3 separate regions of the Homo sapiens genome follow, and regions 1 and 3 are each linked to region 2. Evidence: fine-mapped expression QTL. A gene starts in region 2. Each other region holds a variant in brackets. All regions are shown on one strand. Distances are from middle to middle. Region 1 has its middle 200 kb from the start of LYSMD4. Region 2 holds the start of ADAMTS17 (ADAM metallopeptidase with thrombospondin type 1 motif 17). Region 3 overlaps ADAMTS17 (ADAM metallopeptidase with thrombospondin type 1 motif 17).

Region 1 (10,346 bases), 410 kb before region 2:
TAGTTCAGTGTAACTGTGGTTCTAGGCGACTGGAAACCAGCAGAAGCCTTCAGGACAAAATTCAGCTCACTCATACAGGATTTTGATTCCAATGGAATTTCTGCCCTCTCATTGTTTTCCTTATTTTATTGCTATCTCAGTAGAACTTTAAATAAATAAATAAAGCTAAAATTATTTTATTTGCCATTTTTATATGTAATGATCTCGGAGGGATTCTTGAACAGATGTGGTCTACAGTCTACAGCTAACATGTAGCTGCCTGCTTTCACTGTGTTCACTCTTCAGATTAATAAAATGAAAAGCAATGCTGATAATAGTGGTTTCTTTTCTTTCTGCTTTCTCCAGTAATTAGCTTATGGGGGACACTCAGAGGACAGGATTTAGGATCAGCAGACCTGGGTCTGCCTCCCATCTCCACTGCTAAGAGTTGAATCAGTCCATGCAGGCCACTCCCCATCCTCAGCCTTTTCTTCTGTCAAATGAACAATATAATCCCCTAGTTTTAGGGAATTTTGAGGAATACATCAGATTACCAAATCGTGAGTTCCTTGAGCTGATAAAGAGTGAGCACTTACTGTGTGTAAGGCAACTTTCCTAAGTGCTAGGGATACAAAAGTGAACAAAACACACAAAAAATGTGTCTGTGTGTGTGTGGGGGTTGGTGTGGATGTCCACAGGCATACATGTGTGGTAGCAGACAATAATATAAGAAAAATAAAGTAAAATATATAGTGTTTTAGGTGGTAGTAATTCCTATGTCAAACAACAGCGCCGACGAAGTAGAGGGGATAGGAATGCGTGTGTATGCCTGTGTGGGCACGTTCGCTACCTCTGCATCCCAGGCACCTAGACACGATCTGGCTCAGAGGGGAAGCTCAAAGAATGTTTGATGGATGAATTAACACTCATAGGACACTTACTACCATGCCTGGCGAATAACAGTAGCTTTTGGTTTTAGAATGGATGCAGTTGCTATTGGGCTCCCCTCTTTATGTCCAGTTGATGCAAGTAGGTTAGGGGGTCTCTAGAGGCTCACAAAGCTGTGCTTGGCTCAGAAGTTATCCAGATAAAAACTAGTATAGGAATCCAACTCCCCTCCTCCCTCCATCTTTCACCCCTGCAAATCTGGTGAGCTCCATGAAGCTTTCCTCCCCAGGTGACGTTGTTGCTGCTGTACTTAAGGGACAGCACAGGCCACCTGGGTGTGGGACAGAGCTGACACCTTCCTGTCTGGGCTCTTCCAGCCTTCACTCTAGAACGAAGCGGGAAGCCTCAGGTCCAAGGGGAGAGCCGCCGCAAAGGCCGCGTTGAACGCCGAGGTGCACGCGCAGGTACTGGCTAAGTGCGCGCCAGGGTGCTCGGGAGGGGGCGGGTGCGGGCCGCACTGCCGGGCGGGGTGCGCGAGTGAGGAGGGCGGGGTGCGCGAGAGAGGAGGGCGGGGTGCGCGAGTGAGGAGGGCGGGGTGCGCGAGTGAGGAGGGCGGGGTGCGCGAGTGAGGAGGGCGGGGGAGTGCGCGAGTGAGGAGGGCGGGGTGCGCGAGTGAGGAGGGCGGGGTGCGCGAGTGAGGAGGGCGGGGTGCGCGAGTGAGGAGGGCGGGGTGCGCGAGTGAGGAGGGCGGGGGAGTGCGCGAGTGAGGAGGGCGGGGGAGTGCGCGAGTGAGGAGGGCGGGGTGCGCGAGTGAGGAGGGAGGGGTGCGCGAGTGAGGAGGGCGGGGGAGTGCGCGAGTGAGGAGGGCGGGGGAGTGCGCGAGTGAGGAGGGCGGGGGAGTGCGCGAGTGAGGAGGGCGGGGGAGTGCGCGAGTGAGGAGGGCGGGGGAGTGCGCGAGTGAGGAGGGCGGGGGAGTGCGCGAGTGAGGAGGGAGGGGTGCGCGAGTGAGGAGGGCGGGGGAGTGCGCGAGAGAGGAGGGCGGGGTGCGCGAGTGAGGAGGGCGGGGGAGTGCGCGAGTGAGGAGGGCGGGGTGCGCGAGTGAGGAGGGCGGGGGAGTGCGCGAGTGAGGAGGGCGGGGGAGTGCGCGAGTGAGGAGGGCGGGGGAGTGCGCGAGTGAGGAGGGCGGGGGAGTGCGCGAGTGAGGAGGGAGGGGTGCGCGAGTGAGGAGGGCGGGGGAGTGCGCGAGTGAGGAGGGCGGGGGAGTGCGCGAGTGAGGAGGGCGGGGTGCGCGAGAGAGGAGGGCGGGGTGCGCGAGTGAGGAGGGCGGGGGAGTGCGCGAGTGAGGAGGGCGGGGTGCGCGAGTGAGGAGGGCGGGGGAGTGCGCGAGTGAGGAGGGCGGGGGAGTGCGCGAGTGAGGAGGGCGGGGTGCGCGAGTGAGGAGGGCGGGGGAGTGCGCGAGTGAGGAGGGCGGGGGAGTGCGCGAGTGAGGAGGGCGGGGTGCGCGAGTGAGGAGGGCGGGGGAGTGCGCGAGTGAGGAGGGCGGGGGAGTGCGCGAGTGAGGAGGGCGGGGTGCGCGAGAGAGGAGGGCGGGGTGCGCGAGTGAGGAGGGCGGGGGAGTGCGCGAGTGAGGAGGGCGGGGTGCGCGAGAGAGGAGGGCGGGGTGCGCGAGTGAGGAGGGCGGGGGAGTGCGCGAGTGAGGAGGGCGGGGTGCGCGAGTGAGGAGGGCGGGGGAGTGCGCGAGTGAGGAGGGCGGGGTGCGCGAGTGAGGAGGGCGGGGTGCGCGAGTGAGGAGGGCGGGGGAGTGCGCGAGTGAGGAGGGCGGGGGAGTGCGCGAGTGAGGAGGGCGGGGGAGTGCGCGAGTGAGGAGGGCGGGGGAGTGCGCGAGTGAGGAGGGAGGGGTGCGCGAGTGAGGAGGGCGGGGGAGTGCGCGAGTGAGGAGGGCGGGGTGCGCGAGTGAGGAGGGCGGGGTGCGCGAGAGAGGAGGGCGGGGTGCGCGAGTGAGGAGGGCGGGGGAGTGCGCGAGTGAGGAGGGCGGGGTGCGCGAGAGAGGAGGGCGGGGTGCGCGAGTGAGGAGGGCGGGGGAGTGCGCGAGTGAGGAGGGCGGGGTGCGCGAGTGAGGAGGGCGGGGGAGTGCGCGAGTGAGGAGGGCGGGGGAGTGCGCGAGTGAGGAGGGCGGGGGAGTGCGCGAGTGAGGAGGGCGGGGGAGTGCGCGAGTGAGGAGGGAGGGGTGCGCGAGTGAGGAGGGCGGGGGAGTGCGCGAGTGAGGAGGGCGGGGGAGTGCGCGAGTGAGGAGGGCGGGGGAGTGCGCGAGTGAGGAGGGCGGGGGAGTGCGCGAGTGAGGAGGGCGGGGTGCGCGAGTGAGGAGGGCGGGGTGCGCGAGTGAGGAGGGCGGGGTGCGCGAGTGAGGAGGGCGGGGTGCGCGAGTGAGGAGGGCGGGGGAGTGCGCGAGTGAGGAGGGCGGGGGAGTGCGCGAGTGAGGAGGGCGGGGGAGTGCGCGAGTGAGGAGGGCGGGGTGCGCGAGTGAGGAGGGCGGGGTGCGCGAGTGAGGAGGGCGGGGTGCGCGAGTGAGGAGGGCGGGGTGCGCGAGCGAGGGCGTCCGGCCGGCAGGTGGCACTGTGGCGTCGCCGTGGGCCGAGCCTGGCGAAGCGCTGCTCGCCCGAGATCGCGCAGCTTGGTGAGTGGCAGCGCCTGGCTTTATACTCGCGTCTCGGACACCGATGGTCATCTTCCCACGTCCGTGACTCAGTGGCCTTCCAATGCAGGCTGCGGCCTCTCAGCCCAGAAGGCCCTGGGTTCTGGTACAGGCCTTCCTTGTGGCAGACGGAAGGAAGGCTGACAAAGGGAGTTCACCGGGTTTGCCTGACTTGCCACGCTCTTCTCTCTCCGTGCCAACTTTAACCTGGGAAGCCACACATACCTCTAGGGCCTCTGATATCTTCAGTGTCCCCAAGGCCCATGCTGCTCAGAGCCTCACGTGGCCGCAAACCCAGGTGCCAGTACTTGAGAGTTGCACCTTGAGCGGGAACTGCAGAGGGTTTTAATGGCACCAGCTCCAAACATTTCGCCCACAGCGTCTGCAGTCCTCCACTGCGGAAGGCAGAATAAACGCCCCAAGGGTGTCCACATCCTACTCCCCAGAGCCTGTGAATTTGTCCCCTTACATGGCAAAAGGGAATTACAGTTGCGGATGGAATTAAGGTAGATTAATTGCACACACAGACAGAAACACGCATTTTTGTGTGTTTTGTTCACTGTCGTATCCCTAGCACTTAGGAAAGTTGCCTTACACACAGTAAGTGCTCAGTTAATCTTTATTGACTCAAGGAACTCACAGTTTAGTAATCCGATTTATTCCTCAAAATTCCCTAAAACTAGGGGATTATATTCTCCATCTGACAGAAGAAAAGGCTGAGGATGGGGAGCTTAATGGGTAAGGAGATTAGCCTGGGTCACCCAGGTGGGCCCAATGCAATCACCTGTCCTTATAAGGAAGAGAGGCGAGAGAAAGAAAGAGAGAGAACAGAGAACAGAGAAGGCCGACAGCACCAGGAGGTCTCAGCCCGGTTTTTCTGGCTTTGGGGATGGAGGACGGGCCACGGAACAGGGCGGCCTCTGCCTAGCAGCTGGAAAAGGTAAGGGACTAGGTTCTCCCAACGAACCTCCGGAAAGAAACGCAGCCCTGCCAGCAGCTTCATTTCAGCTCAGTGAGACCTCTTTTTACTCTTTCGACCTCCAGGACTGTAAGATCATAAACGTGTGTTGTTGGAAGCCAGCAAGTTTGTGGTAATTTGTCACAGCAGTCGTGGGCCCACTAAGACACCTGTCGTGGGCCTCGTGTCCAGAGGCCTCAGCTGAAATGCACTGGGGGCCTGGTGGTGTGTGTTAGGTCCACTTGGCTTGCTGTGTTGTTCAAGTCCTCTCATTTCCTTTCTTATCTTCTGTCTGGTTGTTCTTTCCATTATTGAAAGTGGGGGACTGAGGTCTCCGACGATTATTGTAGAACTACTTTTCCCTCCAATTCGCTCCCTTTCTGCTTTGCATATTCTGTTAAGTGCTAAATGTTTATAACTACTTATTCTTGCTGTATTGAATCTCTTCTCAATATATAATGTTCTTTGTCTCTTGTAACCTTGGACAAGATACAGACTACTTAGACTATTGAAAATCCTGACAGTGTATTTGAAACATGCACGTGGACATGGTTTTATTTTTCTCAGTTACTGCTTTCAACTGTGTGCTGATTGAAACTCCTTTCCCCTGGATAGAAGACCTATTAAAATAACCCAACTTTATTCACTAACTTGTCAACTACTTTTGGTCAGTCAGAATTTTGTCTTTGGCCAGAGTTAATCAGCTAACCCGTTGTCCCCAGATCATCAGTGCAGCTTCACCTGGGTACTTCTTATAAATGCAAATTCTCAGGCCCTGCCCCAGAAACTCTGGAGGTGGCCCTGCAGTCTGTGTTTAAGAAGCCCTCCAGGGGATCCTCAGGTGTGATAAACTTTGAGAATCAGCGGTAACCCATCTGCAGAGGTATTTCTATTATTTCAGTAATTATATTTTTAAAATTTTACTTTCTGGAAATACTTTTTAAAATTTACCTATTTTTTCATGTATCTTGATTCTTTTTTTCTGTTTTTATTTCTCATTTTAGGTCTTTAGTAATTTTAAGCCAATTTATCTTGTAGGCTCTGTTTTGATCATTCTACTGGCTTTCCATCCCTGAAGTTTATTGACTTGGAGTTGCCAGTGTTTTGTAATTTGGGATTGTGAGCTGGTCTTAATGGGGACTTCATCTATTGGAATCTTCTGTACCTTACATGAGAGTGGGTGCCTCCAGAGTGCTTTTGGGTTTGCTTCAGCCAGGTGCTTGGCGTTATCACCAGCCCAGGACTGCTTTGCATACCAATGTTTTGACCTGGGGATTTTCTGGCCCATGCATGTCATATACAGCCTAATCCCATCACATGAGTATGGGCCTGTGATGACAAATTGATAGGAGAATCATTTTCCCTACT[C/T]AGAGCCCAGGCCAGGTCTAATATCCCTGACATAACTGCCAGTGGGGGAACTTTCTCTAGATGATGATTACTGAGAGTGCATCCTGCCCTTGAAGGACCCCTCATTTATGAGTGTTGTGGGGCAGGTCCAAGGCTTCCTCTCCAATTCCTCACAGCATTAAAACCCAAGTCCCTAGGCCAGGGATGGTGGCACACGCCTGTAATCCTGGCACTTTGGGAGGCCAAGTTGGGTGGATCACATGAGGCCAGGAGTTCAAGACCAGCCTGGTCAACATGGCAAAACCCCATTTCTACTAAAAATAAATATAAAAACTAGCCAGGCATAGTGATGCACATCTGTAATCCCAGCTACTCGGGAGGCTGAAGCATGAGAATCACTTGAACCCGGGAGGTGGAGGTTGCAGTGAGCTGAGATTGTGCCACTGCACTCCAACCTGGGTGGCAGAGTGAGACTCTGTCTCGAAAAGCAAAACAAAACAATCCAAGCCCCTGAGTTAGTGAGAGGATGCCAGCCCTGGTGGGTGGGGAGATCATGAAGTTGTATACCTAATTGTTGGTTCCCAGTTCATCTTTTGGCCTTTACTTTCTGTTGAACTCTGCATTTAGAGTCTGTTCTATTGCACCAAGCAATTCTGAGCATATTGCGGTGGGTGTTGCCTTTCAGGTTACCTAGTTTCTCATATTGCTGTAAATAGAAGTCCCCTGATAGCTCATTTTGAAACGTCAATCTCTCTTCCCTTCTCCACCTAGTGCAGGCTAAACCTAGTGTTTCCATAGATGGAGAGTGGGGTAGGGGCAGTTGCACATGACTCTCCTGCTTCTTGGCACTTGCTGTTCTAATGTTGGGGTCAGGAAGAGGGGCTGGCAAGGCATGACTGTGGTGAGCTCTCCTCTTGCTTTTCGGGTGGTAACTGCTGGTCCAGCTTATTGTCCACAGCTCTGCATAGGTAGGAGGTGACCAGAAACCCTAGGCATGATGAGGTTCAGCTGCCCCTGTGGACCCCCAGATGGTGGCCTCATGGTGCGTTCTGGTGCACAGGCCTTCTGCTCCATGACGTGACCCCGTAGCCCCGGTCTCCTCTGCCGTTCAGGGCCTTCAGCCTGGGCCCTAGACACGCATGCCACATCCATCTTCTCCCCTCTTGGAACCCGAGGACTCAAAGCTCTACTGGCATCCCCTCTCCTCTGTCCTCATTTCCTGTTTCCCTGGCTACAGGAACACCTGACGATGCCCATTTGCAGCAAACCAACCATGGCTCAGAATTCCTCCAAGCTCAGTCATGCTCTGAGGGCATGTGAAAAGAATGCCCTGCAGAGGAGGAGAGATTTGTTTGTGGCCTTGATGTCATTTGAGATTCTGAGTGTCCAACTGGGGAAATCAACGTTTCCAGGTGGAAACAAAGGGGGCTGCAGAAAGCTGCCCACCCAAGCCAAGGGTCCCTGTTTTGCTGAGTCTAGCGAGGGACTTCCTGTCCCCACTGCTCCACTCCCTCCTCCAGCCCAACTCTCCCTGAGGCAGATGGCAGCAGAGAGAGGAGCAGGGGTTTCCAGGTCAGGCGAGAGTCCTCAGTGGGAGCCTGCTGGGAGGTGGTTTTCTGCCTGAAAGCAGAAGTGGTGGTGTGACAGTCCGTGGACACCAGAGTAGGGACAGAAAAATTGTCTCAGACCCCATCTACAATAAAAATGTATACAAAGGCCTCCCATCCTAGGGGCAGGTATGTGCCTAGAAAGTACCCCTTCTGGCTCTGCCAACAGCTGTACCAGCTTCATTTGCTGGAGGTGAAGAGGCGGCCACATGACCCTGGACTGGCCGGCGTGGTGGGGTCGGCACGCAGGTCTTGACTGCAGCAAGTTCTATGTGTTTGTGCACAATTAGCCAGATAGCCTCTCCTCTGGGGAACCAGTTCATTCCAAGCCAAGAGTAGATGAGTGGGCCCTGTGCCAGGGAGACAAATGACTGGTGACACCGTGGTGTTTCACTGAAGCTCTGCTGGGGGACCCATCACAGCCTCTGCCTGAGCTGCTGGCTTTCAAGTGCCCTGGGGCTGAGCCCTGGGAATATCCTTGTTTATCTGCAGTTGCTGGCCTGGCTCCTCTTCCCCTTTCTCTATTCCTCCCTCTCTTCTCTGGGGAGCAAGCGGCCCACCCCCACCCCTGTACCACTGGGTCCTGAATGTCCAAAAAGCCAAGGAGGTTCTGGCCTCAACTCAGCCTCTCCTTGAGGCAAATCACCTCACTTGGGAGTGGGGGTTCTTCAACTTTACACATCCCGGTTACCCAGGGGGCGTGGTGAGCATCGGATGAAAAACTGGGAGGGGGAACTTGAATGCTGCTTCTGAACGCGTATCCGGGGTGAGAGCTCATCTCCCTCCTGGATCCTGTCTTCCTGCACCAAATTGCCAAGGCCAATGCTCTGCCCCTTGGGTAGGCCAGTCCACCCCCCTTCCTGTCCACCCACCCCAGATGCCAAGTCTGTGGTGGGGTGGCCCATGCTGGGGCATGAGAAGTTTGGGGGATGAGGAGGAGAACCATATCCACCAGGGAGGACCCGGGGTGAGGAAAAGATGAGACAGGATGACACTCAGGAGAGGCCGCCTTTCAGGAGATGGACCTCAGAACGATGGCTTTTCCTTGATAACTCTAGACCTTGAGCTACACTGGCCTCTCTCTGAGCCTGCGCCAGCCACAGGGATGTGAAGGTTGAGATATTCCATACGTGGTTGGCTGACAGGTAGCTGAGTACAGCCATTGTAGAGGGGGATCTCGCTCTGCTTAGTGACATTGATACCTGTATCATTCAAGTGCTAGACATTTTGTTCCTGGGCATATGTCCCAAAGACTTGCACACAAAGCGACCGAGAAGTGATTTACCACAGTATTGTTTGGGGACAGTGGAGTTAGAGGCTGGCATCCATCACTGGGGAATGGGTGAGTAAAATGAGATTGTCACATGGATGACCCACAGCCACAAACAGGGTGGACACCCATCACTGTGGCTACAGCCTTAAAAATAGCGTGAGTGAGAAAAGTAAGAAGCAGGACAAAATCTCTAACACTGCATCATTTGTAGGAACCTGAAAATACATACCTATCAATCAACTTGTCAGGTTTCTCAAGTGTGCGGAGAAAAAGAAAGATAAACATTAAATGCAACAGTAGGGATGAATGTGCAAAGGTGGGAGTGGAGAATTGGGATAAAGAGGAATAAAGTAAAGCACAGTAGGAGCAGGACCTCACATGGAGAAATTGTGCTAGCACACCATGAACTGAGCAACTGGTTGACTCTGCCCCTGAAGGAAAAGGAGCAGTTAAAGCCCTAAAGAAGTGAATGTCAGCTGCAGAGAAGGGATACGCACTATTCATCACTAAAGCATGGGCAAAACTGTGATCACAGGGCCAGCCCCTCCCTCTGCTCCCATCCACACCAACAGCACCAACTGTTGGCTAGGTCTAGAGCAGAACTCTTCCCCTTTGCCTTCTAAGAACAGACTCTGAGACGTGGTGACTGCTCCAGGGCAACCTCCCTCTTCCCAAATGACACCAGAGGATCTCTTTGAGTGGTGAAGGCTCAGCATCTTCATTAGCTCTCCGATTTAGAGATGGCCAAGCTAAAATCTACAGCACCTAGCTCAGTGCCTGGCAGAAAGTTGATCCTCAAATGATGGATGGATGAATGACCATACCTGCTTGGCAGCTGCTTAGCTTTGGTTGGGCCAGAGAAGAATCAGTCAAATGATCCCTATGGTGTGCTGAACACTGCAAAGTTGCCAGAATAAGACCCTGTGCTTGCTCTTGAGGTGTTTGCCTAGTGTTTCTCAACTAGGTTACATATGTCGTGGTCCCAAAACTTGTCTTGGCCATCTAGTATGTGCTGGGCTTTTGCTACCAGTTGGGGTAAAGAAATGAGTACAATGGGTCCTAGATACAGACATAAAACAGATAACCTGCAATATGAGGAGTGACTGAGATACGCCAAGAGTGTGGGGAGTGCAGGGAATGTAACTGGCAGGCAGTGGACCTAATGAGTGAGTCCTGAAGGTGTCAATAGCCCAAAAAACAAAATTATGAGTTAGGAAGATTTGTTCTTTTCAACTGCATATGAAAATATTTGCCAAAGAGGATCTCTACAAGTTTGAGCAGTAGCTGGTTTCTTTTTTCTTTTTCTTTCTCTCTCCCCTCGACCTTCCTTCATGGGTGATTTGGGACAGAGACAATGCCATGGGCTCACCAAATCATATTTCACTTTCCTCTCCCTGGGCACATTGGAAGACTTTTCCAGCATGACTTGTAATTAAATTGGAGCTATATGACCATAGTTTGGCCATTGTGGTGCAGGAGGAAGTAAGGTGTACAACTTTCAAGCCAGCTATAACCTCCCTTGAACCATCATCCATTCTCTCTTGCCTTTCCACAGTGACCTCAGTGGGTATATATTTACATGGCAATGTCACAAGATGAAGC
Region 2 (10,346 bases):
GTGGGCTGGGCCACCAGACTGACCCCAGTGATTCCAAATAAGAGTCCTACAGCATGTGGCTGTGGCAACAGAAGAGCTATGGTAGGAGGATCCCCGACCTTCTCACAGTCCTTCAAGGTGGCCTGGAACGTGGATCCCTGACCTTCTCACAGTCCTTCAAGGTGACCTGGAACGCGGTTATGGCTTAATGTTTTGCAGCCCAGAGCTCCTTGGTGGTCTGTCTGGTCCCACCATCTCACAGTGTGCCCCTGGCAGGCCACAGCTTTTTCCAAGAAGGGGTGGACACATTCCAGTGGGTGGCCTTCCCAAGCTTTGTGAGTATCATCCAAGAAAGGATGGCCACTGCTTGGCAGACCAAACCCGACAGCAGGGGGCCTCCAGCCCTCCCCTCCTCTCGTTCACTCTTCCTAAAACAAGTCCTCCAGCCACTCACTTCAGACAAGCTGCAAAGATTCTTTTCAGAGCCTGACGCTCATGCTGTTCTTGAAGTGCCCTCTCCGCTATCCTGTCTACCTATGAAGTTCAGCCTGATTCCAATTCCACTGGCCTTCCACGATCCAGTCCTGATCACAGAGGCAGCTGATCCGAACTTACATAAATTCACGAAGAGTGTAAAGGCCTTCCTCAGACACCTGAAGTTCATGCTTTGAAATGATATGCTCATAGAAACACTTCCAAAAAACCCATGCTCTAAAGACTCTTGGAAATGTAAATACAATGAAGAAGCATAAACAGAAAACAATTAATACTTAAGTCTATGGCCTTTGAAGATCCAAAAGGCGCAGCTGGCCCAGCTTTTCAGGATAAGACACCAAGAAAGGAATGCGGCAGGCCCATGCCTCTATCTGCTGTCAAAAGGAAAAGGAGCAAAAATGGAACAGGTGCTTTACTCTCCATGGCCCCTAAACAGCTACGGAATGATCTATTCTAATAATTCGTCTCCTTTAAACAGACAGCAAACATCTCTGGAGACAAACAGCACAGATTCCATGCAACATGGAATAGAACGTGTGTGCCCCCAGCCCAGGCACTCAACACTCTCTACTGAGCCCTTTAGGAGATGTTCAATACAGTGGGACTTACCAGCAATTAACATGATACTCAACATCCGGAACGAAGTTTTGTTGAACGTGGCCACATCCATTCGCTCGTATGCCATCCGTAGCTGTAGCTGCTTTCACACTGAAAGGGCAGCTTTGAGCAGCTGCAACAAAGGCTATGTGGCCCCCAAAGCCTAAACTATTTATTTTCTGGTCCTTAAGAGAAGAAGTTTGCCCGACTCTTGCTCATTTTTAGATACAAGGACACTTCGAAATGCCCCTCCTCCATGGCCACCAAAAATCATCTACTTATAGCCTCCCTTCCCACACCTTATAGCCGAGCCTGTCGTAGCAAATACACACACACACAACTCCACATCTCCACTCACAGAGCTTCTACCACAGTACCACAGTCAAGAGGGACTAACACAACATCATCAGCCACCTGAACTGAGAACCAAAGTCAAAGCTAGTCTGCAATGCAAACTTGGTTAGCCCAAATTCCTGTTGCTTTCTTTTCTTTACGCTTTCAGGACCACCTTGCAAACAAAGGGTCCACCTCCAAGTCACCCCACTGTCTCTTCCCTCCGGCCTTCAGTACGTACAGAGGGGGAAGTGTCCAATGTCCAGCTCACACGAACGGGATGAACAAGGCAGACTAAACAACAGAAGTGTCTGCTCCGGCAGGAATTTAAAAGCTGAAGTCTTAGAGGTACAACCGCCACTGGCACACACTGAACTCAGCCTGTTGGCCAGGTTCCTTTATCTAAAGCACAGCACCCTCACATGGTGCTAAAGGGAAGGACAGTCTTGCCGAGAAGCTGGCTGAGATGCCATCTATGACAGGGCCCAGCCCTCATTCTGCAAGGATTTTAAATCAATGTTATCCAGCTTTCCACCTCGGCGCCTTCACAGATAGCTCCTTGCTGGAAACTTTACACCAAGAAGTATAAACTCTGACCTCTACAGAAACTCACTAAACCGCAGCAAATGGGATTCAGATGTTTCCATGTACAGTACAATGATGTGACTTAGACTTTAAACACTTTGGCAAAAACAGGAAAAATGATGTGGCCCTTCCAGTCCCTCCCAGAACATGATACAGCCTTGACCCGAGCCCTACAGTGATCTGAGCCTTTCTCACTCCTACTTAAGCCTCCTTGCCTACAACCCACATTCCCCGCCCCAGGTCCACATTCCCCGCCCCAGGTCCACATTCCCCGCCCCAGGTCCACATTCCCCGCCCCAGGTCCACATTCCCCGCCCCAGGTCCACATTCCCCGCCCCAGGTCCACATTAGCTCCTTCCTACCAGGCCCCCTCCAAGGGTCTATATCACTTTCCTTGTTTCACCAAAGTTGCCTATTTTTCCCAGCTGAGCAAAAGTCTATCATACCCTAATCAGAACTCAGAAAATTCCTGAAAGGAGAGCCAGACTGATCTAGGAAACTACACACAGAGATACCCGCAGGACTGGGAAGAAAGAGAGGTCTCACATAAGACCTTGCACCCCCAGCCTTCTAGCTTCGTAGATTCTCGAGGACTCGCCACAGACTCTGTGAGTAAGGGCTGGAGAATTCTAGATGGTGGCACAAGAAAAGGTGGAGGTGTGGGGAGCAGTTTCTTGTGCCTGGGAAGGACAGACACAAACTAATATCAGAAACTGCCTCCCCAGAGGCCAGTCATGACAGAAGACAGAGAACCCCTGCGGTTCATGCTCTGGGTCCATACCAAGCTTCGCTGGGGGCAGCCCATCTGCCGGCCATGTGTGCGGCTTTCGGGGCACGATGGAGAAGCTGAGTGCTCGTCTGGGCGCCAGTGTAGCCACATGATCAAGTGTGCGCGCAGGCAGGGCAAGTGCACACAAGAACCCCCCCTCCCCCTGGGAGCACCTGTTCCGGGTGCCTCAAATGCAACAGGCCAGGAACTTCGGGGCAGGGAAGTTACTGCCACAGCAAGGGAGCTCCTGGGGGCAGGAATAGGGTTTATCACCAATGTAAACACCCCTCAGGCCTGGTTGGGGGTGGGCACCAGATAAATGCCTACTAATAGTATAAGGAAGCAAAGACAAACACCCTTTCTCTCCTGTTTCTTACGTTTCAGCTAGGAAGAGTGGGGTGAGCCGTGGCCTGTCTGGGTACCTCTCCAAACTTCCTGTTCCAGGTACAGAGAGAAGACTCAAAAGGAAGGGAGGTGAATGCCCACTCCCCCACCTCCAAGTCCAAGAACATAACACCTACACGTACACAGGTACTCCCGTGACATACACTTTGACACGGCGGTGCAGATGCAGTGTTCTCTACATTGGGGCCAAGGCGCCTCTGTCCAGGGCCCTGACAGTTTCATCCCTGCCAGATCTGCGCTCCCTAGAGCGGGCGGCGTATACCCCACGCAACCCCAGCTCCGCGCGGGTTCCACGGGCTGCAGAGGCGCTGGACTGGGATGCTGCCCCTCCCACCCCCTTTGCCTATAGAGGGTACCGAAGGCCGGGGTGGGGGATGGGGAGAGGTGGAAAGGCAGGGGGTTCCCTCCGGTTCCCCTGGAGGCTGGACTTCCAGCAGAGGCGCCCCACCCCCACCCTCCACGGCGACCACTCTGCGTCGCAACAGACCGGACGGGCCGACCCGGAGGTGGCGCGGGCAGTACCAGGCCGCCGGCGGCGCCGCAGGCGCTGAGCGAGACGAGGGAGCCGGGGTGGCCGAGCACACGGCCCGAGTAGAAGCACAGCTCGGCGGGGCGGCCGCGGCGCCGGGCCGCGCCCGCCTCCTCCACCTCGAAGCCTCGGGACAGGAAGCGCAGGTCGCGGCGCAGCTGAAGGTACAGGTCGCGCCCGAAGGCCGGCAGGTGCAGCAGCAGGGCGCGCTCTCCGGGCCGGGCGCGCGGGGCGGCTGGGGGCGTGCGGGGGCGTCGCCGCCGTCGGGGCCCGGGGGCTGCGGGCAGCGGCGGCAGGTGCACGTCGTCGGGGCGCACCCGCCACGGGAGCACCACCTCCACGTCGGCCGCCGCGTCGCCGACAGCTGCGGGGAGAGAGGAGACGCGTCAGCGCGGCGGGGCCCGCCCGGACGCCCGCCCTCCCGCTGGCCGCCAGCCGCGCCAGCGCGGGGACAGCGCGACCCGGAGCCGGCGCTGCCTTCCCTTCCCTCGCCCGGCACCTCCACGCTGGCCCGCGCCACCCGGGGAGGGTCTCCGGCGCAGCCGCGCGAGCACCTCCCGGAACGGCGCCGCGCATCGGCGAGCGGAGACCCGGCGGCGGCGCGCCTGCCACGGAGCCACCCGATTCCCGTACTCCGGCCGCGGCCCGCGCCTCCTCCGCTCGGGCGCCGTCAGCGGTCCCGCCGCCGCCCCCGGGCCGCCAGGACGCCGCGAGAACGCAGAGGGAAGGTAGCCGCAGGACGCGGGGTGAAGAGGGCTGTGGGAGGGGGCGCTACCTGTGCCCGGGTCCAGTCCCCAAACCAGCAGCAGCAGCACGGGCAGGACGAGCGGAGGCAGCAGGGCGCCGTCACACATGGTACCCGGGACCGGCAGCCCCCCCGGACCGTGGCGGCGAAGCAGGAGCGCGCTAGGCGGCGGCGCCAGCCGGAGTGAAGCCCTCCAGCCTTTGGAAAAAGTAATTAGCGCTGCGGACAAACCCAACGTGGTAAACCCCAAGCCCCGCCTTCCCCTCGGAAGGCGGGAGGGGATTGGGCCCTCGCTTTCCTCCGCCCCGCCTCCTCCTTCCCTACTGGTTGGGATGGGTCGAAACCACAGTGCGTAGTTAGGTTGTCAGCGCTTTCTTACACGTGGTTTCTGGGCAGTGGCGGGGACACGGCACCAGGTGGCGCGCGGGAGCCGACCGGAGCCGTGGGACCCTGGAAGAGCTGGAGGATGCGGGGCTGGTCTTCAGAGCTTGTCCTCATTTTGGAACTCTCTCAGCCTGCTGCCCAGTTTCCCGGGAAGGTAGGGCGGAAATCGCCCCGGCCAAGCGGTTTCATCCAAAACTGCATATAATCTTTACATCTGAAGTTAGGTTTTAGTTGTTTGTGGCCGCAAAGACTCCCAGTCCACTTTCCCGCACACCTGAGTTAGCACCTGAAGGCTATATCCGCGGCGTTTATCCAAACTCTTCACACCTCCTGTCTTCTTTAATCCCACAGGAGCCAGTGCAACACGCATGCTCACACCCTCTTACAGACTGAAAAACTGAGGAAGAGAGAGAGCTTAAGGAAAAACGCTGAAGTTACCCAGAGAGTTCCTGTTGGAGCAGAGGCTAGAATTTGTGATCCTGATTTCTGGCTTGGTGCTTCTTATTAACAGCAGGATCCCCCCGCCCCGAGGGAAGCAGGACTCAGTGTTACAGGTTAGGAAACGGAGGCACAAAGTCCCAAAGCCTAGCCTTGAACGTGAGTCTCCCAGAAACAGAATGAGTTGATCCTTTCCTGCCACAATATAACTGAGGTCTGCAGGGAAGGTGACTCCATTAGCTTGCTGAATAGCATCTTGTAGAGGCTCATGCCTGTAATCCCAGCACTTTGGGAGGCCAAGGCGGGCGGGTCACGAAGTCAGGGGTTCCAGACTAGCCTGGCCAATATGGTGAAACCCTGTCTCTACTAAAAATACAAAAATTAGCCAGGCGTGATGGCGCACACCTGTAGTCCCAGCTACTCGGGAGGCTAAGGCAGAAGAATCGCTTGAACCCGGGGGGTGGAGGTTGCAGTGAGCCGAGATTGTGCCACTGCACTCCAGCCTGGGCAACAGAGCAAGACTCCATCTCAAAAAAACAAAACAAAACCAAACAAAACAAAAAAAACAATTAAGTGTAACCATAACCAATCTCAGGTTTCCCGTCCCTTCCCTGTCCTGCTCTTTTCCATTTTATCATAGCAGAAAGGTTATAGTTCCCCGCTGGATGCTGCTTGAAGCCTCGGAATCTAAATTCATCACAGGATTACATATCATCTGAAGGAATCTATAACACTGGCCACCTTCCCCGAAATATAATGAACCCCAAGGCTGAACAGTGACCCTCCACAGAGGCTTGCCACAAAAGGGGCTGCCCTCACTGCTTGGCACCTACAGTTCTGGGGGCATCTGCACAGGTCCTGCTCTTGGCCAGGCCTGGGGCTGTGTTTCTCCCCCTTGCCTCTGTCCAGGTCAACAACCTCAGATGACTGACAGCTCAGTAGCATTTTCTGGCAGCACAAGAAACCTTGGTGATTGAGGTGATGGACACCTCATTTACCCTGATGGGATTATTACTCATTGTATGGCCATATCAAAAAATTTCATGTATATACATTTTGTAAACATATACACCTACTACGTACTCACAAAATATTAATTTTTTTAAAGATATCACAGTAAGTTTCTTAGTGAATCTTTTTGTCAAAAAGAGCCATTTCTAAGGCCTGCCACTGAAAACCATGGAGTATGGGCCACACCACCTCACAAGCGCAAGTCAGCCTGAAGTAGCCATCACCAACCTATCAAGAACCTATCCAAGATGCTCAAATGCTAAAATTAGTCCATAGGGACATGAAAACTAAAACAGAAAGATACTATTTTATCTCCCAACTAACCAAAATTAAAGAGCTTAGAAAAATCAAGAATTAGAGAGGACACTCTCCTACCTAGGGGTGGAGAGTATAAATTGGCACAGCCACTCTGAGGAACAATTGGGCAAACTGTAAAATTAAAGTTTTACTTTTTAGTTTTAATAAAACTAAAAATGCACACATTCTACAACTCTGTAATTCCACGCTGGTTAATTACTCCAGAGAAACTCTGGCACATGTACAAGAATGTTTGTTCACCAGGGCACCTTATTAAGAGCAAAAAATTGCAAAAACCTGAATGTTCATCGTTACATAAACGGCTACTTGAACACCATTAATTAAAGGAAATACAAAAATCTCATATATGTAACAACATGGACAGATCTCCAAGATCAGTTATCGAATTTTTTAAAAAATCAAGTTGCAGAATGAGGCACACCGAAAAAAAAATGTGTATAAACACACAGACACACATGACATGATCTGCATGGATTCAGATAAGTGTACATAAAATCCAAGAGGAAAGTCTGGAATAATACAAGCCAAACTTTGTTAAGGTTTATTGTTCTTTTTGTATTAATTGCATGCTGAGGAAAGGTACTACAAAAGGAAAATGAACACCTGGGACCCCAATTCACTCTGCCAAAGGAAAAAAATCAAGCTGAAAGCTGAGTCAAGCAATCAGCTGCCTTTTCTTCTGTTCCTAAGCAGACAGCGACAGATAAAAGGTTCAACATCTCCACAGGTAGCTGGTAGAGTAAGAGGGAGAAAGAAGAAATGGTAAAGTGACATGAAGGCAAGACGGTGTTCCGTGACTCCGTGCTGCTCCTGTCCCTGTATTGGATTCCAGCACCAGGGGCCTGTGTCTACTGCTGCACTGTTGAAGACACTGTCACGGTTATCATGGTTGATTCTGGATCTACCAAAGTAGTGCTGCCTTGACCGGGGCCCAGTTCTCATTGCCACACCAGCAACTTCCAGCACCTGTTAACATGGAATCCTTACCTCTGCCTCCTGCCATCTAATCTCCTGCCAGGGCCTCTTTTTGGCAGAAGCTAGCAAGAAGCCTAAGAAAATGTAAGGGAGTCAGAGAATGAAGGTTGCAGACTTTCAGCTTCAGTAAAGAGCAGAACATGGAAGTGGGTATGTGGGGCTGGGAGACAGAGCCGCTGAAGGTCTTAATCTGACCACCATGAGTCTGAATTCCCTTTGCCCTTCATCCTTGTATTCACCAGTCATATTAAAAGTTTAAGCTTCCATGCCTTCCACTTTCTCTTTCACAGCATTTCCTCCACAATACTGTGAACTGCCTTCCCCTACCCAAATCCAAGATCCTCCTCAGTCTTGAAACCTTCCCACTGTGCCCTTAAGAGCTGCTGCTCCATATCCTAGATCTGCTGCCTCTTCTCTGAGCGTTCTGTACTTACGAATGGAACTCCTTTGAAAATGTAAGGTGGCAACAAAATTCACATTTCTCAGCATCTTTTTTCCCCTAAGGATGGTCACTTGTCACAGTTCTGGCCACTGTGATAGAAGGAGAAGCTACTGGCTAGAGTTCTAGCAGAGTTCATTTGAGGAGCTTCCTTCTGCCGCTGTATACCCCTTTTCACTGTGTCTCTTCCTCTTTGCTCCTGACTAGAATTTGCATGTGATTCCTGGAATTCCAGCAGCCATCTCGTAAGCATGAGGAAGAGTGCCAGACCCCTGGGAAGCAAAAAGATCAATGAACTCTGGGTTGCTGATGACATCTTGGAGTCACCATGCCAGACCTGAGCTGTCTACTTCTGCACTTTTTGCTATATCAGAAAAAAAATATACTCTTGTCTCTTTTAAGCTGTTGCTATTTGGGTTGTCTGTTATATGCAGCCAAACTCGACCCCTAACAGACACACATATAGACAACTCCCATCCCCCACCCTGGGCTCTGGGCTCCTCAATTTCCTCCTTCAGTGACCTTCTGTGCTATGCTGCCCCAACTGTCCACTCTCAAATTCACACCCTACACCTTGTCATCACCCCTAGCTGTTCCACCTTCCAAAACTTGAACATCCACCTCTGACCACAGCTTCTTGTCCTCCCAGCATGCTCGTCCAAATGCTCCTACCTCAGAAGGTCTCTCAGTCTGCATCTCCCAACCCACCAGCCTCTCTTCACTTGCCTCCATATCCAGCTTGCATTCCAGGCCCCATGACTCTGAAAACACTCTTGCCAATATGCTCAGCACCCTCCCCTATCCCTTTTCACTGCAGTTGTCATGCAGAACTACAGGCCTGGGTAAACTCAACTCTCTACTCTCACTGAGCATGTGGTTGAGCTCTGAACACCACTGGAGCCAAGCATGCAACAGGGAAATCTGCAATCACCTTCTTCATTTGAGCCATCGCCATGCCCACCATTGCTACTACACTCCTCTGCCCAACTCCCCTTTCTCTCAATGCAGTGCTGATCTCGAACCCTCCCCTTCTCAGCTTCGCATTCCTCATCTTATCCCTTTCTTTTGGCAGTGGACAAGCACGCACTTCACAGAGTCATCCCCTGGTCCAGACTCTTTGCCGCGGTTTGAATGTTTATGTCCCTCCAAAATTCATGGTGAAACTTACCTCATTGTGCTGGTATTAAGAGGTGGAGCCTTTTGGGTTAAGGCCCAAAGTCATGAGGGCTCTGCCCTCATGAATGGAATTAATGCCCTCATTAAAGAGGCTCAAGAGGGCTTCTTGGCCCTTTTGCCCTGCATCTCTTCTGCCATATGAGGACACAGCATTTGTCCTCTTCAGAAGATGCAGCAACAAGGTGTCATCCTGGACACAGAGAGCTTACCAGACACTGAATCTGCCGGCACCTTGACCTTGGACTTCCCAGCCACCAGAACAATGAGAAATAAATGTCTATTATTTATAAATTACCAAGTCTAAGCTATTTTGTCATAGCAGCAGGAATGGACTAAGGCACTCCTCCTCCCAGCTCCAGACCATGTATCCAGCTGTTCAGTTGACCACTTCAAAGAGCGAGACCATGGCATGTGATCCAGTTTCAAGGATGGATGAGAATGTTTCAAATCTGCTTTTGTTTTTGTTTGACTTTGAATTAAGAAATCATCCAGTGGATGATGGAAGGATCATGGGACACTGATATCATTTGGGTACACATTGTACTTGTTTGGTTAACCCTATTTGGATAAACTGTTGTGGTCTGGATTTAGTTGCTTGCAGCCAAGGTCATCTATGATCTAATGTCTTCAGACCATTCACCAGAGTACTATTTCTCCTGCCCAAGCTCCTGATGAGGACTGGCCAGCTGAAAGCCAGGGTTAAATCCAACTCCATGCATGACCCAAGGAACAGCTACTCCCTGATGCTGAACAAGGCCAAAGCCATATACTGTGAACAAGCACAAAACAGAGCCAGGCTGGCATGTGCTTCCGCAAATTGTGAAGCCCAAACAGCTGCCTCTGCTGCAGTTGATGGTGACTTATTAGCAAAGAAAACATTTTCTTTTTGGAAAAGAGTTTTAGATTGGCTTCAATGCTTGGACAAAAAGAGGTCAGCCCTACAAGGCCCATGACACTGAGCATAGCTACAATGTATTGAAAACAGGCATCGCTGATGCCCACACAGCCCTAAAAATTGCATCTCAGTGCCCATACAATGTATAAGTTTAGGCAATTCAACTTCATGGTGAACTTTTCAAGGTTAATTGGTTGAGAAATATCAAAAAAGCATTTGTAAAAGTAATACTTTGATTTTTCAAAGAGTTGATCTTGAACCAATCTTTCAACC
Region 3 (10,346 bases), 110 kb before region 2:
AGTGTTGCTGATGCCTTCCCTTGCAAATTCCTGCCTTACAAATCTCTGCTGATGTCTTGGTCCATGGGACAATCACTCTTATTTCAGTGGCTTCTGTTCTATGACGCACAGTGGTTCTGCCTGTTGACCTGGATGCTCACTTCACATTCAGGAAGTCTTCTCTCTGGACTGAGAACCACAGCAAGGCTGGTCCCGCTAAACTAAAAAGGACCCAGTCTCCTGGCTGCAGTCCAAAGGATCCACCCTCTGTTGACCTCAAAGAATCATATGATGTCCCAGAGGCAACCACTCAAAGGTCACATGATCCGTTGAAGATGCTGACACGCCTCCTCCCACAACAAAACACCCACAGAGCCTCAGGAGAACTAACTGCAAAGTTCCCTCTCCCTGACCAAATGCAAACATCTTCCTTTGAAGTGTAGACAGAGAACGCAAGGGCAACTCTCTTGCAGTGGTGAAGTATGGAGCTCCAGTGAGCAGGTGGACACAGAGCCAAGATGAAAGGCCACAGCACCTTCCCTGACCAGCAGGAAATTGCCACACAGTCACCTGAGATGATCAGTGCAGGGAAAGCCTGCCTGTGTTGGCCTCCCTCACAGCTAAGGAGGATGCACCCACAGCACATCAACTAGCTCCAACTCACTCTGCCCCCACTGCCAACCACCCATCCCATGCTGAAGTCCTAGAAGTTTCCTGGCCAAGCTGCACGAGCATAACCAACACCGGGCACTTAAACATAACCAGGGGCATATTAACTGAGAAGACAACTCAGAATAAGTGGTTTTCTCAGTTAAACTTTCTCCGCAGTTTGGGCTTGCAGAAGAGCACAAACACGTCACGAATGACACCCGCGGTGCACGAAAGCCACACTTGCAGACCCCTATCTTTGTGGTACCTTCAAAGAGAACTCCACATTCTACAGAGCGTCCAGTGGGTCTCCACATCAGATGCGCATCCAGGGCTGAGGGCAGGCTAGATAGTAACAGATTCCTGTGTATAACTCTTTCCAGATGCTGGCTGGTACAGAGTTGGAGGAGAAGTCATCCATGCCATAGACACACGAGCTAATTCCAAACCTCACAGCAGGGAGGGATCTGAGGCCAGCAATGGTGCAAGGAGAGCAAGGGGTGGAGGAAACGGGGTTAGACTGGGATGGTCTGCAAATTGCAATGGCATCATAGCCGAAAAGTTCCTGAAAAGTCTAATTGTCCTGAGGCATCTTCATAACAGCTATCTCAGGCCTGACCACTGGGTTGAGATGGGAGTGACTGGCATTTAACACTTTTTTCGGGTTTGATCACTCAGCAAAAGCTTAGGAAGTATTGCATTTTGAATGAAAGCATTTATTGTTTAAATGAAGGCACCAATAGTGGGTAACGACAATGCTTGGAAGAAACAAAATTATAAAAATGAATTTAAACACACACACACCTAGCTTCGGAAACATGTCCACTGTTGATACCAAACACCTCCTGAAACAGGTGTTGGGACTGCCTGGGGACCCAATTAGGAAGCCATCACTCTGTCTCCCAGCAGCCAGGGGACAAGAACAGCCCACGGGGGGAGGAGACAGAGGGATTAGCAATAAAGCAAGGTATGTCTTGGAAGGCAGCCACCCTTTCCACCTGGTGCTGAGAACTCTGTTGGCACCAAAAGGAATTGTGAAGTTGGCAACCCCATCAGAACACAGAGAGAGCGCCTGCACATCCTGGGAGGAAGATAATCCAAAGCAGTCTTTAAAATAAATACTTCCATCAGGGAATTTAAGTACTTTGTATCTAGCAATGGTGTGCCTCATTATTTTCAGGACCGTGTTATGTTATGGCCTACGTTGCTTCAAATTCTGAACTCATGCCATTTGTCAAAGACAATAAAATACCAAAGGCACAACTACTTATCAGATAATCCAGTGGAAATTTTAATTGAGGCTTCAGTGTTAATTCCTCTTGGCAATGACCCCTATGTCTAACTCTCTGGCTAATTCTCATTTCATTAAAGACAATTCCCAGTGTGCATAAGCTTCTTATTTCATAAACCAGCCACTGGAATCCACAGGGGATAACTGCCTTCCCACAGGAACATCAGCACCTCCCATTCGCTGGCCTGACAGGGACCATGAATGAGGAAGAAAAGAATCCTGGCCAGTTACTGATGGTGATCTGTTTCCTTCTCCACTGACCGCCTGTAATCAAATCCTTTTTCTAAGTGTTACAGAAGCTGATCAGACTTGGGATAAAAAGGCCTTCTCCCAAGCTGATGTCACACAATGTGTAATTTCCTGGTGTGTCCAAGGGTTCTCAGGGCAGGAGTGAGTTTGGAATCACCTACTTGGCTGGTCAGGTGCCGGTTTTTCTTGAACTCACTCAGTCTTGTCCAAAAGGGTCTCAATGGTCTGTTGCCTCCTTCTGAGCTTTGGGTATGCATTTTCTGGCCTCAGATTCGCCCCTGATTGTATTAGGTCATCTTACCGTCATCCTCAGGAGAAGCGAATAATGTGTAGTAATTCCTCATCCTTTTTCTTCCTTTTGAGCCCAATTTAGGCTGAGCACAGACATAGAATAAATCTTGGCATCGTCCTTAGTCTCCACATCTAATTCCTGAACCTTCATTTTACTTGTGAATTATACTTACTCTAGAACTCAACAGAGTAACAAAAATGAATCACGGCGACCTTGCCCCCACTTGAATTGTCTTAGTGTCAAGACCTGTTTTCCCTCAGCTGAAGTAATAAAGAAATTGACACTTCCAATGAGATAGGCAGAAAAATTGGGTTGGGTTGGGGATACCTGGCCAGAGGCAGCTCTAGATTTCATTACAAGGCTCAGAATGGAGAACTTTCCTCACCAGAACTAGGCTAACCCTGGCCTAGCAGCGGAAGCCAATCCACCCGGGCAGGACACCTGCCTGCAGCATGGAGCCAGGGTGGGAGGTGGGCTTCCCCCTGCCAGCACCTCCCCAACTCCTCTCCTTCCCCTCAAGGCAGATGTGAGGTTCAAGTCCCGGGTATCGACCCATCATCCCTGGGCTCTGAAAGCCTGATGGAGATGAAAATAGTGCCAGACATGGAATGAACACTTGGTGTTCCCAGACTCACATCAAGTCATGCAGAGAGGTGACACATCCTCCCAGTAAACCCACCTTCTTCTTAACATGAAACACGCTGGTGGGACGTAGATGCCCAATCGGCTATTCCCTTCCCCTCCTTTTGATGGCAACGAAGGTCTCACGCTGGGCAGCCACAAAGGGCTCTGGCGGTAAGTGCAGGACACCAAGTCACCAGAACTGAAGTCTTCCTGTGTCAGTGGACAAGTTATGTGACCCCACCAAGCCTGTTTCCTGAATAGCAGGAGTGACTTGGCCATTTGGCCCATGCGGGACACCCTGCCCAGGCCCTCCTCTCACTGCCTCCTCACAGTTCTTCACACTGACACCATGGAATTTGCGTCTTCAGGTCTCGGTTGGAGGCGGCGCAGATCGATTCCACTGCAGCAGGTCTCACAGGCAGAGGCCATCTCACACTCCACCCCAGAGGAGGGACGCCGTGAATCTCCAAGGTCCACTGCCCCATGTCAGTTTTTAAAGGGAGAGTATTGAGGTATTCAGTAAATATGGGTTGAATCTGAGGTTCCTCTACCTACTGCACAGATAAAAAAGGGTGTTAAATGGTACAGAAGAGGCCAGGCGCGGTGGCTCACGCCTATAATCCTAGCACTTTGGGAGGCTAAGGATGGTGGATCACCTGAGGTCAGGAGCTCCAGACTAGTCTGTCCAACATGGTGAAATCCCGTCTCTACTAAAAAGACAAAAAATGAGTCGGGCGTGGGGACGGACGCCTGTAACCCCAGGTACTCAGGATGCTGAGGCAGGAGAATCGCTTGAACCCAGGAGGCAGAGGTTGCAGTGAGCCAAGATTGCGCTATGGCACTCCAGCCTGGGCAACAAGAGTGAAACTCCATCTCAAAAAAAAAAAAAATACAGAAGATTAACTCACTGAAAAGTCATATAAGTCGCCGTTTTTTAAGATGGTCAACAGGAGTCACAAACGGAACTGGAAATTCCCTAGCACTGTGTCCTGAGTCCTTCATCTCTCCAAATACCATTACAGGGCAGATGGGCAAGTTTTATTAGCTCGAAAAATATGTTTAAATGTTTTGATTAGTGAAATCAGTTGTATTAATAAAACTCATTGCATCTCTCATGTGCAGTCGATGGGAACACAGTGGGGGCGTGAAGATGCTGGGTCTGTGTTCCCATCACACAGGCAAAGGACAGAGAAACACGCAATGTCCAGCAATAACTGAAAACTAAATGGAGAGGCCGCTTCTGTCTCTCTGAGGAGATGCTCTTGAACAGAGACCTAACGGTGGGAAGAGAGCGAGTTATGGAGATGTCAGGGGGAGAGTGTGCCGGGCCCAGGAAGATTATGGGTGCCAAGCTGGAGATGGAGGCGAGCCTGGCAAGGGAAGGAGGAGGCTGAGGCAGAGGTGGCTTCCCGGGAGTGAGCACCAGGAAGAGAGGTTGGCAGGAGAACCCTGGGCCACATGTCCTGGGCGCCCTACTGTTCTGTCAGTTCTATCTTAAGTGTCTTCAGAAGCTGTTAGAAGATTCTGAGCAGGGAACCCACAGGATCTGGTTTGGGGCTTAAAAGTAACCCTCTGCCTGTCATGTAAGAAAAAACTGTTGAAGAGGAAGCTCCGTGGCAGGGAGGAGACCCAGCAGGCAAGGGCAGCACAGGCCTGGACCGTGGGAGGAATGGCCGGTGTGGTTCAAAGAGGTCTGATCGGGAATATATTTTGAAGGTGGAGTGGACAGGCATTGCAGATGGATTAGAAGTGTGTATCGGGCACCTTCAGAAACAAAGACAGTACAACAGCCAGTCGACTACTAGAAAGAGCTAATAAAACTCGCAGCCACCGTTTTCCACGAGGCAGACAGGCACTGTGCCAAATGCTTTACGTTCGTTCCACATTTGATCCCCAGGACACCGCCTGGCATATGGTAGTCCAGTCCTGATGCTACCAGTAAGGAAGATGAAGGATACGGGCCCACAGTCATGTACTGGGAAGGAGCAGAGCCAGCTGCCTCTTCAAGCCCCTTCTTGCACTCTGTGACCTGTCTCATTGGCCCCATCCATAATCCCTGCTTTTCCAATTCCCTCCAACTTTCCCACACAGGGTGCGCAAAGCTGGGTTTGGGGGAAAACGACTCCTTGGTCCAACACGTGACTGTCTTATTGCTTCCTCTTCTAGGATGAAAACCTCCTGGGGTTTCCACTTTATCTCAAAACATATGTTTACCTTGGCATTCGCAGCTCTGTGGCAGAGGAAACGCTGCAACCAGCCCGTAAGGCAGCCCCAGGGACTCCCCGACCACTCCTCTGACTGCTGCCT[C/T]TCCGGGAAACCTTCCATTCCATCAGCAGCTGAGCCAGGGTGGAAAGGAAGGGGCCATCCCAGCTTCTCCCAAGGCGCCCCCTCCACAGCCTATGCACAGCTGTTTTGTCCTGTTTGATTTTGTAACCACGGGGTAGAGGAGACAATAGAAAATATCTGGAATATTGTGCAACCAAACAAGAGAAAGGCAGTGGGAACATGAGGGAAGAGGCATGAATAAGCTGAATTGGCTTAAGAAGAAAAACAAGGTAATTATGTTCACGGAATAAAACCCCAGAATGCCACTGGAAGAGGGAAAATAGTGCTGGGCCATGACTCCTGCCTCAGCGATTCGAGAACAGGAAGGCAGACGCGGGCCCACGATGAGATAGGATGCAGGAGGTGCTCGGGGAGAAACGGAAGGGAGAAATGGCCTTTATCAGAAGCCTCTTCTGTCAGCAGTGGTGTGACCAGGATTCCATGTGCTAGAAAAGCCATGCGTCATGCTTGTTCTAGGAAGAATGTCAGTAGGGCTGGTGGCAGGCAAGGGCCTGTGCAGTGCTGGCCCCCTGGTTACTTACACAGCTGCTGGGCACCTGGCTTTCCTGAGCATGCAAAGATCCTCCCCACACTGACCTCCCCGACCACCCCACACCATGCACACACATACGGCCAGTAGAGTTGAGCCCTCCCGTCTCTCAGGTGTCATCCATGCCCTCCTGTCTCAGGTGCTGCCCACCAAGACTCAGATCAGTGGTTCTCAAAATTAAGCGTGTGTCAGAATCTCCGGAAGGCTTGCCACATCACAGATGCTCGGCATCACCTCAGAGATTCTGACCCAGAAGGACCCCGAGGAAGCTGAGAATGTGCATTCCTCATACCTTCCCAGGTTTTGCTGATGCTGTGGTCTGGGATCACCCTTTGAGAACCATTCGCTTCGGGGAGCTCTCTTCCCAAACACCACCACGGAGGACTTCCAGGGCCCTCTCTGACATCAAAAGGTGCTGGGGGCACTGAAACAAGAACAACACAGCCAATGATGATGGGGCATTTATTATGAGTTCTGGGCCCTTTACCTCATTCTATTACCTTCAATCCACAGATCAGGAAATGGAAACATGAGGACAAGTAAATTGCCCAGGCTGTACTCAAGGTAGCAGAGCTGGGATCTGAACCAGGCAGAGGCCAGGCTCAAAACCACAACTCCTCCTGCCTCTCTTAAATACCAACATCAAGTTTATGGAAAATCTGATGAGGTGGCTGAACATTTGGGGTAAATTCGATTCCTTGCATGACAGTCAATATCCTAATGATCACAGACATCCACAGTCACCAGTGACTCAATTACCATCTCTAATTTGGGTCAGACGCCAGAGTCGCACAGACTCAGAGCAAGAGAACACAGGAAGTAACTCGGAAATTTCCATCATCACTGCTTTTTGTAAAAAAAGTAAATGTCTACGATATTTGCACAAGTAATCATGAAATGACAGTAAACATTACATTGAGAGAGGTGCCCTATATTCATGTCACCCACGACATTAAAAAAAAAAAAAAAAACCCTAACAAGAGAAGACCCCCAGCCACAATAAGGCAGGGCTTCTCAGAGTGTGGTCCCCACACCAGCACCACCAGCATCCATAGCCCTGCCCAGGCCCACCGAATGCAAACATCTGGGGTGAGGTCCAGCCGGCTATGTTTAAAGGAGTCCTCCATGTGATCCAGAGGCATGTAAATCTACAGAGCCCTCTTACTAACACTGAACAGCTAACATGGACCCTCTTTAAATCTTTACAAAAAACAAACAAACAAACAAAAAAACGGCAGTAGCTCACTCCTGTAATCCCAGCAGCTTGGGAGGCTGAGACAGGAGGATCACTAGAGGCCAGGAGGTTGAGACCAGCCTGGGAAACGCTGTAAGACCTTGTTTCTACATAAAATAAAAACATTAGCTGGGCATAGTGGTGCGTGCCTCTTGTCCCAGCTACTCAGGAGGCTGAAGTGGGAGGATTGCTTGAGCCCAGGAGGTCGAGGCTGCAGTGAGCTATGACTGCACCACTGCACTCCAGTCTGGGCAACAGAGTGAGACTCCTGACTCTAAAGAAAAAGAAAGAAATACCAACTACTTGTTCCATGCTCCCTCTCCTCTGCCCCCAAAACAGAGCCAGGAATGGGTCTGTCACAGGAGGGAACTCTACGGCTGAATCCCATGGTTCCCAGCTTCAATTCTCCTCTCATCTCTGCACAACATGAGATCAGCTCACTTGGAGTAGCTCCCACGATCCTCAGACTCCAATCTGAAGCTGCAAGCCAAATTCCTCAGGCCCCCACAACCCTGCCCCTGCAACATCTTACCCTTTCAGCACAAGCCTAACTGGGGTGTCGGGCCAGCCAGGTTCCTCCCAGCTCCACCATCGTGTCACTATGCAGCCCGGTGAGGAGCCCAGCCTCAGCACCTTCATCTGTGAACTGGCGCCTACAGGAGGCGACTCCATGTGAGGGCCGAGGTCTGAGGACGGCACCAGGCAAGCAGGAGGCTCTCCCTCAGTAAGCCTCAGGCCCCTGGGCTTCTGCTCTTTGCTTTAACTGCTTTTGGGGTCTCACTTCCCTGCCTTTACCTACATTAGGACTCACCCCTGGGAAGCCTCAGCCCTGCCCTGGCTGAGCAGCTCTGTCCTGGCACCCTCCCTAGGAGATCCACACGACGACAGGAAGAGGGTGGCTGGGCATGATGTCCTGGGGCAGGCTGAGCAGACACAAGGACAAGCTTCACAGAGCAGGCATTGTGCAGGAGGGACTCGATGGGCAAGCCTCACAGCAGTCCCGTGGGGAAGACACTGCTGTCTCAATACACAAGTAGGGAAAGGAGGAACGCTGAGGTTTTTTGTTTTTGTTTTTTTTGAGACAGAGTCTCGCTCTGTCACCCAGGCTGGAGTGCAATGGTGCAATCTCAGCTCAGTGCAACCTCCGCCTCCCAGGTTCAAGCAATTCTCCTGTCTCCGCCTCCCAAGTAGCTGGAATTATAGGCACATGCCACCACGCCTGGCCAATTTTTATATTTTTAGTAGAGACAGGGTTTCACGATGTTGGCCAGGCTGGTCTCAAACTCCTGACCTCAGGTGATCCACCCACCTCGGTCTCCCAAAGTGCTGGGATTACAGGTGTGAGCCCACTGTGCCCGGCCAACACTAAGTCTCTTAAGTGACTTGCCCAAGGTCAAGGAAATGGCAGAAGAAAGACTCAAATCCAGGTCTGATTAGGAGCCCTGCAAAAAAGAAGCAAAGACGGAGTGGGCCCAAGGGTACCCAGCTTGCTCCCACTGTGGGACAGCCACTCACCCTGCTGTCCATGGTGGGGACCCTGCCTTTGCTCACAGAAATTAATAGTGTTGGCATAGGCAACCTCAACACTTCTAATGGCCCTGGCCTGCAAACGGGTTGCACATGAGTGTAATGTCCAAATGTCACCTTCTCAGCAAAGCCTTTGGCCACTCCAGGTAAAATTTCAGGTCCCAGCCCCTCCACTTCCCACCCTTCTTATCTGCTTTCCATGTTCCCTTTATCGCCAGCCTCCATCCACACTCTAGAGTGTACTTACTGACTTCACATGAGTTGCATCCCCTCCAGTAAAACATCACCCCACAAGAGCAACGGCCTTTGTTTGGTGCCTTGAGTGTCCCCAGGGCTGGAGCCGGGCCTGGCACACAGTAGGCACTCAATAGAGTTTTACTGAGTATGAATGACGGAAAAGCAGAATGTCGGTGAGGACAAAGATCCGTCCTGAACACAGAATCTGTGATGGACACAGCAAAGGAGAAAACACAGGGTAAAAGCAACGATGGGAATTTAATACCTGCCAAGAACAAAATGAATGGGCACAGGTCTGGCAGACAAGACCAGAGTTAAGCCCTCAGGCTTTGCTGTGAGATAGTTTGATCCCAGCTCTGTCACTCGCGAGTGGCATAATTTCAGACAAGAAATGTATTCTTTTAGAGCCTCAGTTTCCCCATCTGCTCACAGGAATAATGACGCCTCACTTAAAATGCTATCGAAAAGCGAGAAAGGCAGGGCGTGGTGGCTCACACCTGTAATTCCAGCACTTTGGGAGGCCCAGGAGGGCAGAATACTTGAGGTCAGGAGTTCAAGACCAGCCTGGCCAACCTGAAACAGGTGAAACCCTGTTTCTACTAAAAATACAAAAGTTAGCCAGGCGTAGTGGCGTGTGCCTGTAACCCCAGGTACTCGGGAGACTGAGATGGGAGAATCACTTGAACCAGGAGATGGAGCTTGCAGTGAGCCGAGATCACGCCACTGCACTCCAGCCTGGGCAACAGAGCGAGACTCCGTCTCAAAAAAGAAAACGAAATGTGAGAAAGGAAAGACTGTAACCCAACCGCCTGGGGTCAGAGCCTAGCTTGGCTGCTTACAAGCTGTGTGCCTTCGGGCAAGACATCTCCCTCTCTGCACCTCGGTTTTCCCACATGCAGAATGGAGAGAACAGCAGCAGCTCCCGCACACTGTTGTGCAGATTAAATGACCCAAGACCATGACGTTCTCAGCAGATGGTAGCTGTTCTCAGTCTCACTTTCATCACTCCTGCAAGCACGGGATGAGGAGCGGCGCTGGTTGTGGTCTTTCCTACCTGTCAATAATGACTGGTGCAGGGATACCGCAGTCGACCCTGCTGAAAGCAACGCTCTTCAGCTCTCCAAGGCTAAGGGAAAAGAAGGTGCAGATCTCGGCACCGCTCCCAGGCCTGTGAGATGCTGGACTGTGTGGATGCCCCTGAGCGGGGCAGCAGCAAGAAGAGGCTACCCTTTGTGGAAGCAATGAGAAGGGGGTCTCTCTCCAGCGTTGCAGGAGGAAGTGTTGGAGACGGGCTCTGGAGCCACAGAGGCTGCCTCCTGCCATGCTTTGACGTCTAATGAGCCACCAGGCTCCCCTAGCTGCCTGGTGCTACTGGAGCACAGTCCAGGGC

The links. PIP is the estimated chance that this variant, and not a neighbour inherited with it, causes the effect.
Region 1: its variant is fine-mapped to the expression of ADAMTS17 in whole blood (INTERVAL, PIP above 0.99).
Region 3: its variant is fine-mapped to the expression of ADAMTS17 in left ventricle (GTEx, PIP 0.93).

What each region holds. Positions count from the first base shown.
Region 1 is chr15:99,925,018-99,935,363 of GRCh38, forward strand. No RefSeq gene overlaps it. Among named protein-coding and RNA genes, the nearest start is that of LYSMD4, 200 kb to the left of the region's middle. RefSeq lists an enhancer at 3,347-3,641 and a silencer at 3,363-3,422. The variant C/T (reference allele first, on the strand shown) is at 5,886.
Region 2 is chr15:100,337,354-100,347,699 of GRCh38, forward strand. ADAMTS17 (ADAM metallopeptidase with thrombospondin type 1 motif 17) reads right to left here and starts at 4,622. Exons shown (of 22, transcript NM_139057.4): 1 at 4,468-4,622; 2 at 3,686-4,056. The coding sequence starts at 4,546. It overlaps SPATA41 (spermatogenesis associated 41), which reads right to left. Exons shown (of 2, transcript NR_028139.1): 2 at 7,104-8,274. RefSeq lists an enhancer at 2,956-3,474.
Region 3 is chr15:100,229,372-100,239,717 of GRCh38, forward strand. The region is part of intron 7 of ADAMTS17 (ADAM metallopeptidase with thrombospondin type 1 motif 17); the gene reads right to left. Among named protein-coding and RNA genes, the nearest start is that of ADAMTS17, 110 kb to the right of the region's middle. The variant C/T (reference allele first, on the strand shown) is at 5,391.